Homo sapiens: one gene and its partner. The protein of the gene in region 1 interacts with the protein of each later gene in a biochemical or structural test. Each region holds a gene or a part of one and is shown on either strand. Other genes may lie near its edges.

Region 1 (3,484 bases):
TAGCTGAGGGATTGCAAAGAGGTGCCCAGCAGGAGCCAGGCCTTATGGAAAAGGGACTTTGTGTGAAGGCGTTGGCCAGTAATAAGTTCACCTGAGCCATAGACACTCACAGAGCAAAAAGTAGGGCCAAACAACTTTTTGCTCTTTCCCAAGTCTGCTCTTTATTCTGAGGGTCAGAGAGGACAGAGACCCAGCATACGGAAGAAGGTGCCAGTTCTCTGGTCAAGGCCACTCAATGTCACATGTTCCTGGTTTGTTGCAGGTGGTAGCCTTGGCAGTTTCCCCCAGGCAAAATGAGCAGGCACAAACCCATTCAGTAAGTTGCCCCTTTCTGGGCTCCTCAGGGGTGAAGGGATTGGCCAGGTGACTTAAGCTCCCATTTTCAGGTTGTTTGCTGAGGACACGAGAGAACTATTGGGTCAGTGCCAATGGGATTCTGCCATCCCCACCTGTAAACAAACCCCTGTCGTTTCCACCCCAGCCCCAGGTTGAAAAGCTGGCATGTGAGAGTAGTGTGATCTGAACAGAGTGCACACCCTGCAACCCACACTTCCCTAGGCCAAGCCTCGTTCTCTCCAATGCCAGACTTATTTCAGTTGCAGTGGTGGTGCCTCATAGTGGCAAAGGACAGGCTGGTAAAACATGCTCATCTGCAAGTCCAGGCAACCTGTGCCCCACCTAGCCTCATAGAGGACAGCAGGTGGAAAAGGCTGCACTTGTGGGGAAATTGATGGACATAGCTGGATTTCTCACAAGCCCAACTCTAACTTCTTGCTTATATCTGCCCCCGACCTTTTTTTTTTTTTTTTTGCATTCTCCTTCCTTCTCTCAGTAGGACGCCTCGTCTAAGGAGCAGAAAACCCAAGGGCAGGTGGAGAGTCCAGGGAGGCAGGATGGATCACCAGACACCTAACCTTCAGCGTTGCCCATGGCCCTGCCACATCCCGTGTAACATAAGTGGTGCCCACCATGTTTGCACTTTTAATAACTCTTACTTGCGTGTTTTGTTTTTGGTTTCATTTTAAAACACCAATATCTAATACCACAGTGGGAAAAGGAAAGGGAAGAAAGACTTTATTCTCTCTCTTATTGTAAGTTTTTGGATCTGCTACTGACAACTTTTAGAGGGTTTTGGGGGGGTGGGGGAGGGTGTTGTTGGGGCTGAGAAGAAAGAGATTTATATGCTGTATATAAATATATATGTAAATTGTATAGTTCTTTTGTACAGGCATTGGCATTGCTGTTTGTTTATTTCTCTCCCTCTGCCTGCTGTGGGTGGTGGGCACTCTGGACACATAGTCCAGCTTTCTAAAATCCAGGACTCTATCCTGGGCCTACTAAACTTCTGTTTGGAGACTGACCCTTGTGTATAAAGACGGGAGTCCTGCAATTGTACTGCGGACTCCACGAGTTCTTTTCTGGTGGGAGGACTATATTGCCCCATGCCATTAGTTGTCAAAATTGATAAGTCACTTGGCTCTCGGCCTTGTCCAGGGAGGTTGGGCTAAGGAGAGATGGAAACTGCCCTGGGAGAGGAAGGGAGTCCAGATCCCATGAATAGCCCACACAGGTACCGGCTCTCAGAGGGTCCGTGCATTCCTGCTCTCCGGACCCCCAAAGGGCCCAGCATTGGTGGGTGCACCAGTATCTTAGTGACCCTCGGAGCAAATTATCCACAAAGGATTTGCATTACGTCACTCGAAACGTTTTCATCCATGCTTAGCATCTACTCTGTATAACGCATGAGAGGGGAGGCAAAGAAGAAAAAGACACACAGAAGGGCCTTTAAAAAAGTAGATATTTAATATCTAAGCAGGGGAGGGGACAGGACAGAAAGCCTGCACTGAGGGGTGCGGTGCCAACAGGGAAACTCTTCACCTCCCTGCAAACCTACCAGTGAGGCTCCCAGAGACGCAGCTGTCTCAGTGCCAGGGGCAGATTGGGTGTGACCTCTCCACTCCTCCATCTCCTGCTGTTGTCCTAGTGGCTATCACAGGCCTGGGTGGGTGGGTTGGGGGAGGTGTCAGTCACCTTGTTGGTAACACTAAAGTTGTTTTGTTGGTTTTTTAAAAACCCAATACTGAGGTTCTTCCTGTTCCCTCAAGTTTTCTTATGGGCTTCCAGGCTTTAAGCTAATTCCAGAAGTAAAACTGATCTTGGGTTTCCTATTCTGCCTCCCCTAGAAGGGCAGGGGTGATAACCCAGCTACAGGGAAATCCCGGCCCAGCTTTCCACAGGCATCACAGGCATCTTCCGCGGATTCTAGGGTGGGCTGCCCAGCCTTCTGGTCTGAGGCGCAGCTCCCTCTGCCCAGGTGCTGTGCCTATTCAAGTGGCCTTCAGGCAGAGCAGCAAGTGGCCCTTAGCGCCCCTTCCCATAAGCAGCTGTGGTGGCAGTGAGGGAGGTTGGGTAGCCCTGGACTGGTCCCCTCCTCAGATCACCCTTGCAAATCTGGCCTCATCTTGTATTCCAACCCGACATCCCTAAAAGTACCTCCACCCGTTCCGGGTCTGGAAGGCGTTGGCACCACAAGCACTGTCCCTGTGGGAGGAGCACAACCTTCTCGGGACAGGATCTGATGGGGTCTTGGGCTAAAGGAGGTCCCTGCTGTCCTGGAGAAAGTCCTAGAGGTTATCTCAGGAATGACTGGTGGCCCTGCCCCAACGTGGAAAGGTGGGAAGGAAGCCTTCTCCCATTAGCCCCAATGAGAGAACTCAACGTGCCGGAGCTGAGTGGGCCTTGCACGAGACACTGGCCCCACTTTCAGGCCTGGAGGAAGCATGCACACATGGAGACGGCGCCTGCCTGTAGATGTTTGGATCTTCGAGATCTCCCCAGGCATCTTGTCTCCCACAGGATCGTGTGTGTAGGTGGTGTTGTGTGGTTTTCCTTTGTGAAGGAGAGAGGGAAACTATTTGTAGCTTGTTTTATAAAAAATAAAAAATGGGTAAATCTTGGCGGCTGTTGCCTCTTTCTTTGGGTGGCTTCCTTTAATGAAAAGGCTTTATTTCCTAGAAAGCTTAGTTCGTTTCCCTGGCCTGGGTGCTCTCCACTTCCATCCAAGGACATCTGAGGTGCTGCCAATGATGAACCTAGCAGGGGACCCGGAAGTGGCCAGTGTGGTACTGCACCTAGAGAGGGGACTCCCTTGCTAAAGGTGTTTGTGCACTCTCTGTAATTCTTCCTCTTACCTCCACCCACATGTCTGCCCCACGGGATGCCCCTCCCTGACTGCCATTCCCTTCCTCTCACTGGAATGTAGGGAATGTTGCTGGCAGAGCTTTGGGGGCAGGGCTTGGGGAAGAGCCTATTCCATGGCTTCAGGCTGTTGAAAGTGGGTACATTGCCATCATCCAGATGACAAGACGCCAGGCTGAAATGTAGCCATAGGTGGGGAGCAGACCCCCAGTGGAGTTTTTCAGCCTGTACCCCAGTTTTGTGGGGTATCTATTCTGGCTGAGGCTGCAGGTCTGGTTTGCAGAGC
Region 2 (7,661 bases), on another chromosome or scaffold:
GCATTAGAAAGGGTAGGATTAAGGGGGATATGTTTTTCATTCTGTCAGCTTGAATTCTCTTTCCAAATTCCATTCTGGTTATATGATCAGGCTACTGCTGTATTTATGGGTGGCCACAGTCTGCCTGGAGGGGCATATTTAGTCAGAAAGGAAGTGTTTTCCTTCTAAAGGCAGGCAAGAAGCAGAGAAGCATTCAGAAGGAACACGGCAGAATGTACCTCTGACTTGGTGATCACGGGGACCTGGGTGTGAAACCTGGCTGTATCACTCTGAGTTCTAGGACCTTGGTAAAGTTATTCAGTCTCCCTGTTCTTGAAGCCATCTCTTTGTCCAACAAATATAGTCCATACCTCAGAGACATGCTGTGGATGATCCCACAAAAGCCTACAGTTTAGAGAGTAGGCTCATCATATATTTTGGCTATCATTGTCATTAGAATTAATTAAAATAGCCTTTGTTAAGTCTTTTATTTCTCATTCATATTCCTGTCTATTACACTATTTGTGGACTTGCTCTTACTTCTGCTACAGATGGTGACTCAGAGGGGCAAAAATCCTTGTTGAAGGGCAGAATGGCAACCAGAATGCACACAGCCTGGTTTCATGATTTGTAAATGTGCTTTTTGTCATTGAAGATTCTGTGGCAATGTCCCAGAGGCTAAGAGCAAAGGTGTAAGTTTTAGACCTTGTGACCCCACTTCAACCAAAGCAGCCCTGCATTTACCTGTCATATACTGGGGGTTTGCCCTAAATTCATGTAATGAATATTTTCATCATTAAAAATAAGTTTAAAAATCATGATCTTAGAATATTAATCTTGGACAAGTCCTTGTAAAATGATAAACAGAGAAACTAAGAAAAGTTTCCATTTATTGAACCCTTAATATGTGGAAGGTACTATGCCAAGTGTTTGCCATATATTACCTCATTTGAATGTTGCAAGAGCCCTGTGAGACATAGTTTGTCATCTCCATTATATGAATGACAAAGTTGAGGGCTGAAACGTTAGTCACTTCTTAGAGTGGGGAAGGAGGAGGTTAGTGTGGGATAAAATAGAGAAGCTAGGTTTTTAAAACAAAGCATAGAGGAAAAAAATATTTAATGACTGTAGAGCTTGGCAACATCCCTTTCAATCCTTGTCCAATTTACCCTGTTTGAGCAAACCAGAGAATACTCATATTGTGCACCTTTTTCTTCCCCACAAAGCAGTCACCTTCCTGAAATGCAAGGGCCAAAGCACGCTGACTTACATCTCCTGCAAATGACTTGTATGCGCACAAAGCCAGAAACTCTTCACTTGGTTGTCTAGGACTGAATAAATCTTCTTCAGTCCTGAATTGGGCTTGCCTGGCTGGGATGGATAGTAGTTTTCCTTTCTAAAACACATATGGGAAAGCTCTGTAAAAATGGGGGAAAAAGTCTACAAAAACATGAAAAAGAGGCATTCATTCTTCAAGTGGTGCTCCCTGTCCTGCCCTCCCTCCGGACAGAAAGCTTTTCCAAAGAGTTTCCAACAGCATCGTACTTCATAGCTGTCAGCTTTAGAATCTGCAGATGCCTAAACTCAAAACCTCCTGACATTCTGGAATCAAAATTTGACATTAACTTCCAGCCCCGGGCTACTACCTTTTCTCCAACCTGTGCCAACACAACCTCCTGCTTGTAAAATACAGCCAAGTCTCAGACCTGCCAGCCTAGTGAGACACCCTCAGATTGGGTGAGATAAAAAGCGGGGGCTGGGGGCGGGCTGAGGAACAACACACAAGAAACAATCCAAGACTGGCTCAATGCCTCTTTTAACTTCCAGAGTGATGGCAGTTTTTGGCAATGACAATGATTATCCAAACTTCCAGTTATTAAGCAGTCATTGCTGATCTTTCTATACCTCATTTTCTCCTCAAAACGACAGCAGACGCTATTGTCCCCATTTTAGAGATGTGAAAACTGAGGATTAAGGAAGTGATGTATCTTTCTCAGGGTCATATGTATGGTGGTGGGGAGAATACCAAACACCTCTGGCTTCAAACCTAAGCTCTTATTCCTCTTACAACACTGATGGGTGAGAAGAACCCCTGTGTTCTTTCCAAAGTACACCAGGGGCAGCAGGGTTCCCATACCTGGGGGATGTTGTTGCTCAGATCTTTCTGTGATGAGAGGTGAGGAGGAGGAGGTGATTCTAGAGACATGTGGGACGCTGCTGGCTCTAGGCACCCCAGTAAAGCTGTTCTCCACCACTCTCTAGCTGCCTGTCAGTTATTCATCTGGCCCAGGAGCCACCTCCTCTCTTCTGTCCCCCAGCTCTCATTTCCAGGGTGAATATTTTGAGGACCAAATGAGGGAATGGGTACAAAACTCTTTGTAAACTTTATGTAAGTGCTGTTTAGATATAAACTTTTATATTCTCCCTGCACTCCTCTATCAAACTCCCTCTAACCCATCCCAGGGGCAGGCTATGAGCAAAGTCTGCCTTAAAACTCTACTGCCCTAACCCTCAAAATAAAAGATATATACAGGTGAATCAGCCAGACTAGAAGTAGGAGAGCAGTTGAAGAGAAAATTTTTACTTTTCCTCTGCAGAACAGCAGAAGATAACAACTTTACGAAAAGTTCCTTCCAAGTCTGACTATTCATAAAGTTAAAACAAACAAAATTACAAGACCAGAAAAGTCAAGGTGCATCTGATATAACCAATACACACTCCTTTTTTTTCCAGCGGTGGAAAAAAAAACCCCATATGTTTTGTAATTATAATATAAAATCACAACTCATTTGGTACCAGGAATGCAATCCTTACATCATAAGGATCTCTAGTGATGAGGGCAAAACAGACTTACCTTTCCGATGGGCGAGAGACCTAGGTCCTTGGAAGAAGTACCTGGAGTGTGGAGCTGCGGCGGTTCCCACGTGCGCGTTCCCCCGAGTTCCCCAGCAGCGCTGCCTTTGTGCCCACGGAGGCGGGGGCGTGTATCTGCGCGCGGGAGAGGCGGGTGACAGTAGGCAGGCTGTGGCCGGTGCAGCCAACTTTGGCTGGCTTATATAGCGAGCTCCTTCCTCTGTAATGGGACGCCTCGCCTCCAGACATCCTTTCCCACTTTTTCAGTTGGCGAATTAAAGGAACAGCCCTCCCAGCGGAACAGGGTTAGCTCATGAAAGACGCACTCACTCCTGGCTCTCGGCCAGGGAAGGAACCCATTTGCATACAATTTATGGCGAAAGTAGGAATTCCCGCCTGCCCGCCCCCGACCCCGAGTAGCTGTTAGTGAAATGTGATTTTTGCTTTGCTCCCCACACGGGTTTTCTAATTGTGAGACGGATGCCTGGGGAGCAAGAGGGAGTAGGATCCGCAGCCCTGGCTCCCCTCTTGTACTTGGTCAAGCTGGAAATGGGACCAGGGCTCGCCTGGGCTCTGGGCAGCAGCTGCTCAGTGGCACCTCGGAGCGAGTACAGGGACTGAGCCCAGTTCCTGGAAAGAGGAGATAAAGCCCTTCAAAAGCCTGGGGGGTTTCAGGTTTCTCTGGGCCAGCGGAGAGATAACCCAGGATTAGGTCTCAGCAGGTGGGGATCGTGCGGGACGCTCACATCAGCCCTGCTTTTCTTGTGTGGGAGCCAGCCTTGCCCAGCTGCTGGGAGGCATCTTTGTTCCAGCCCCAGTGTCCTGCAGGGCAGTAGCTTTTTGACATTGTTCATGCCCTGTGCCTGGTGTGGTCTTCTCAGCTGGGTCTCCAGGGGGAAGGATTTCTGAGGTTTTCTCTTAGTGCTGAAAGGCGTCCCCCACAGCCCTTTCTTTAAAGAAAAGCAATAATTTAAAAAGGTAACAACCTAATCCTTGAGCCATAAGCTGCGCCTTTGCTTTCCAGCCTGCCGTGGATTTCCTCCAAGCTCTGAGTCATCCGTTCGTTTGGTGGTTAGCATGCATTGAGTATCCTCAGGGCATACAGGGGCATTTAAGGGAGTGGAGAAGTAGCACTTCACCCGTGCCTAGAGACTTCTGAGCCTGCCGCAGAGCATAGTAGTTTGTGACAGTGAAGTAAAATGAAGCATTAAATGTAATTCAAAACGCAACTACCATTGAGCCCTCCCTTATTAAGTCTATAATCAGGTGCTGTGCAGGGTACTTTATGAACACTATTTTTGTTCACTATTTTTATTATATCCTTGTAACCAGTAAGTAGGATAGACACAAGTGTCTCTTTTTTACACAAGAAAACTGACGTTTAGAGAAGTAATGAAACTTTACCAAGGGAATACACCTGGGAAGTGTTTATATTACAACACTGGGCTCCAGAGATCTATTACACGTTACTGTTTAGGAATAGGGTATGATGATATTTAAACAATGTTTTATGCTGTATTAGATTGTTAACACCATTTGTGTAGAAATCACAGCCATATTTGAATATGGAAAATATATTTATTTGCTCCATAAAGCTAATTAGGAGAGATCTTTGATTTTTAAAAATTAACTACTAATAATGGAGGTCTCAATTATCCACTTATTTTCAATATTAAATGATATCATCCCCACAGTTATTATTGTTGCTGTGGGCCTCAGTTTCCCCATCTGAAAAAAAAAGCAAGACACGATTAGGTCATCCTACGGTTGCTTTGGCTGTAGTATTTTAGGATTCTCTGCTAAAGTGACCCTCCCAGACAGCAAGAAAGCCCATAAATAGTCATGTCATAAAACCGCTCATTTGAACTTTTGATCCATTTTGGCTGATTCAAATGTTGGTTGTTTGGGAAGTTTTAAATTCTGTGCTTTAGCCAAAGGATATTTCAGTAGCATGAAGCTGTGTCTCAACCAGCAGTGAGTGGTTCCTACTGAGTTAATCTCTTGGGTTAGGGATTAAAATATTAGAATAGTGTACAATATATGTCATATGGTATATAAACTATATTTGTATAGAACATATAATCAATATATTTATAATTCTATGTGAGTTTTTAAATAAGACAAGAGCGCATGCTAGAAAACTAGATAGATATGGCTTTTTCGGGGAATGTCTCAAACTCGAACTCCTCTCCCCAGTTCTTTAGGATTCTACAATCGTTGATTAGTGTCTACCACAAGTGGTATGGTCAATCACAGGGAAACTAAGCCAAATATGACCAGGCTGGCCCTCAAAGCAGGAAAAGGCTAGCAGAGGTGACAAACAAGAATACTATTATGGGTTAAGTTAACAACTATCATATAAGTGTATTCTGATAACATAGAGAAGAGATGATTTATGCATTTTTAGGAGAGGCTACTTGTAAAAGGCATTTTCTCCAAAAAGCTATGTGGCATCTTAAGCTTTTTGGCATTTGAGTAAGGAGTGCCCAGACGAGGACGTGTTTTCCATCCCTGTACTGTTCGCAGCCTCTGTTTCTGGTAGATGGGTCCATATGCACCAGGTACTCTACAATACCCAAACTTTGTTCATGCTAGGATGATGCCCTAGGCTCCTCACCTCCATGCCCTCACATCTATTTATCATCCATTTCTGATCTGACTTCACTATGGAGCTTCCTAAATGGAAGAAATCCATCTAGGAAGAGATGTTTCTATGCACTATGGCATTTGTAACTCTATTAGGACATCCATTGCATCTACATGGTATAATTACACATGTGCATGTCTAGATTTTCCTCCTAGATGCTAGGCTTCCTGAGGCTGGTGATCACACTTGCTTTTTCTGTACCTGGCATAGAGCCTTGGGTATCATAGAAGCTCAGTAAATGTTTATAGAATGAATGAAGTAATGGAGGAACAAATAAATGTTTGACATGTTGTGCTTTATAATTAAATTCTTCCTTTTACAACCATAGAACCTGAAAAGGAAACTGGATTATTGTGTCCAATGCTTCCATCGCACAGATCAGAAAGTGGGGTGCTGAGAGGAAGAATGACTTGTCTGAAGCCACTATGCCTGCTTTCCAGGAAGAAAACTGTCACAATCAGAACTGAGCAACCAAGCCACACTAGACATTACAGCAGAGGAAGTTTATGGAAATGAAGAACCATTTTTCCTCCTGTTTGGCAGAGGCCATACCTCTTGGCATCTAATCCCTCATGGTTGCATCCTTCTGAGAAGCATAAGCACTTTTTTCCACTTGAGAGGGTAGAATGAATGCATGTAAACACCACCCCTGCACAGAGCTTCCTGCCAAAGACTGATTTTGTTGTTGCTTGTTTGCAGTTCTTATTCAGGAGTTGCTGGTGGAGGCTGTGGTTTAGAGACCAGAGGAATGTCATGGTTTGCCTCAGGTGAGATCATTCTCATTTCTTTAAAGGTCTGTTAAATGTAATACTTTTTCTTCCAGACAGAACAGACAATGAGTGGAATTTTGGCCAGGACTAGTGCTGAGGAAGCTGAGTGTCCACTTCCCCATGGAATCCCCTGCTTCCTACTCTGATTACATACTCCTTCACTGTTCCCAACCTTCCTCCTCCTCTTCCCGGGATTCATCTCATCTGGTGTGCTAACTCCAGTCCAAAAGTCTCATGTGACTCCATAATTACCAGAAATCTTTTCCAAAGCCGGGATGGATCTCTGATCCCACACAGTGGGCCAGTCATTTAATTAAATGCATTTTGTTAGAGTCAAGGTTTCCCAACTTGCTTGCAGATCATTGTTGAGTGGTCTTTTCCAACTCTTCTTGCTTTTCCTTCGACAACAAAGGACAAAATCAAGTTCAAAGACCATATGGAGTGTGTGGCAAGACATATGAGAGCTTCTCTGATGGATGGACTATGGCAATTTAGCTGCGCCATCAACCAAGAAGTCATGCCTGGTCAGCACAGCAGAGTGGAGAGCATTGGTTGAGTGTCTAAGTCTTGATGCTGCATCAACTCGCTGTGTGACTTTGGGAAAATCGCTTTCCCCGCTGACACACAGGGTCCTGGTTAGCAAGTGGGGAATTCCCAGGGATTATAGCAACTCAAAACTCTCAAGTAAAATCTTTAAAGAAATAATTTAGAAGTCTCCAAGCCTTTGCACATTCACTTCCCTAGGAAGAACCCTGTCTTATTGCCATGACAAATTCCTTTATTATTTTTTTCAAGAGTTCCTTCATAGTGCTTCTTCTAACAAAGTTTTATGACCCTCACATCCAGAGAGAAGGGCCTCTCCTTCATGCTCATCTACACCACCATTTTTTAACTTTTAGTATGTTGCACATTTTATTTCTCTTGCCTGTTTACCCTGCTAGATCATGGACACCTGAGGGTAGACACTGTGCCTTTCCATCTGTTTGTCAGCAGTTCTCTTTGTTGCCAGCATCTGTTGATGGCTGCTGCCTATGTCATGTTATTTGTTAATTATTTTGAATATCATTCCTACATATCATAGTGTTTAGAATAGCATACGACCTGTCACAGATTTTGGAGGTAAGCAATAAAGGCATTCTTGAAGTGACTTTTATGAAATGATTAGAGACCTTAATTGTTATCATCAATTTACTCATTCATTTGCCCAGCTGGTCTGTGAGGACTCCTTGAGGCCAAGGACTGTGCTTTTCACCTGTACAGACCCAAAGCACTTGGAGGTTGATTAATGTTCCTATGAAATGATTGACTGATCAACTAATTGGCTGCATAATGGAAAATATATGATATTAGCACACAGTCTTGGGTTCTATTTGGCCCAACTGCTTACAATGTGAATTACCTTGAGAAAAGCA

The links. The genes of interacting proteins can lie anywhere in the genome.
Region 2: the proteins of SMOC1 (region 1) and TNC form a complex in vitro, tested with the Homo sapiens proteins (one study listed by BioGRID).

What each region holds. Positions count from the first base shown.
Region 1 is NC_000014.9:70,029,410-70,032,893, forward strand, and holds the end of SMOC1 (SPARC-related modular calcium-binding protein 1 isoform 1 precursor), read left to right. Parts: intron 1-832; coding exon 833-849; 3' UTR 850-2,957; downstream 2,958-3,484. UniProt on the Homo sapiens protein: Plays essential roles in both eye and limb development. Probable regulator of osteoblast differentiation.
Region 2 is NC_000009.12:115,115,149-115,122,809, forward strand, and holds the start of TNC (tenascin isoform 1 precursor), read right to left. Parts: upstream 3,010-7,661; 5' UTR 2,834-3,009; intron 1,376-2,833; exon of another isoform or gene 1-1,375. UniProt on the Homo sapiens protein: Extracellular matrix protein implicated in guidance of migrating neurons as well as axons during development, synaptic plasticity as well as neuronal regeneration. Promotes neurite outgrowth from cortical neurons grown on a monolayer of astrocytes.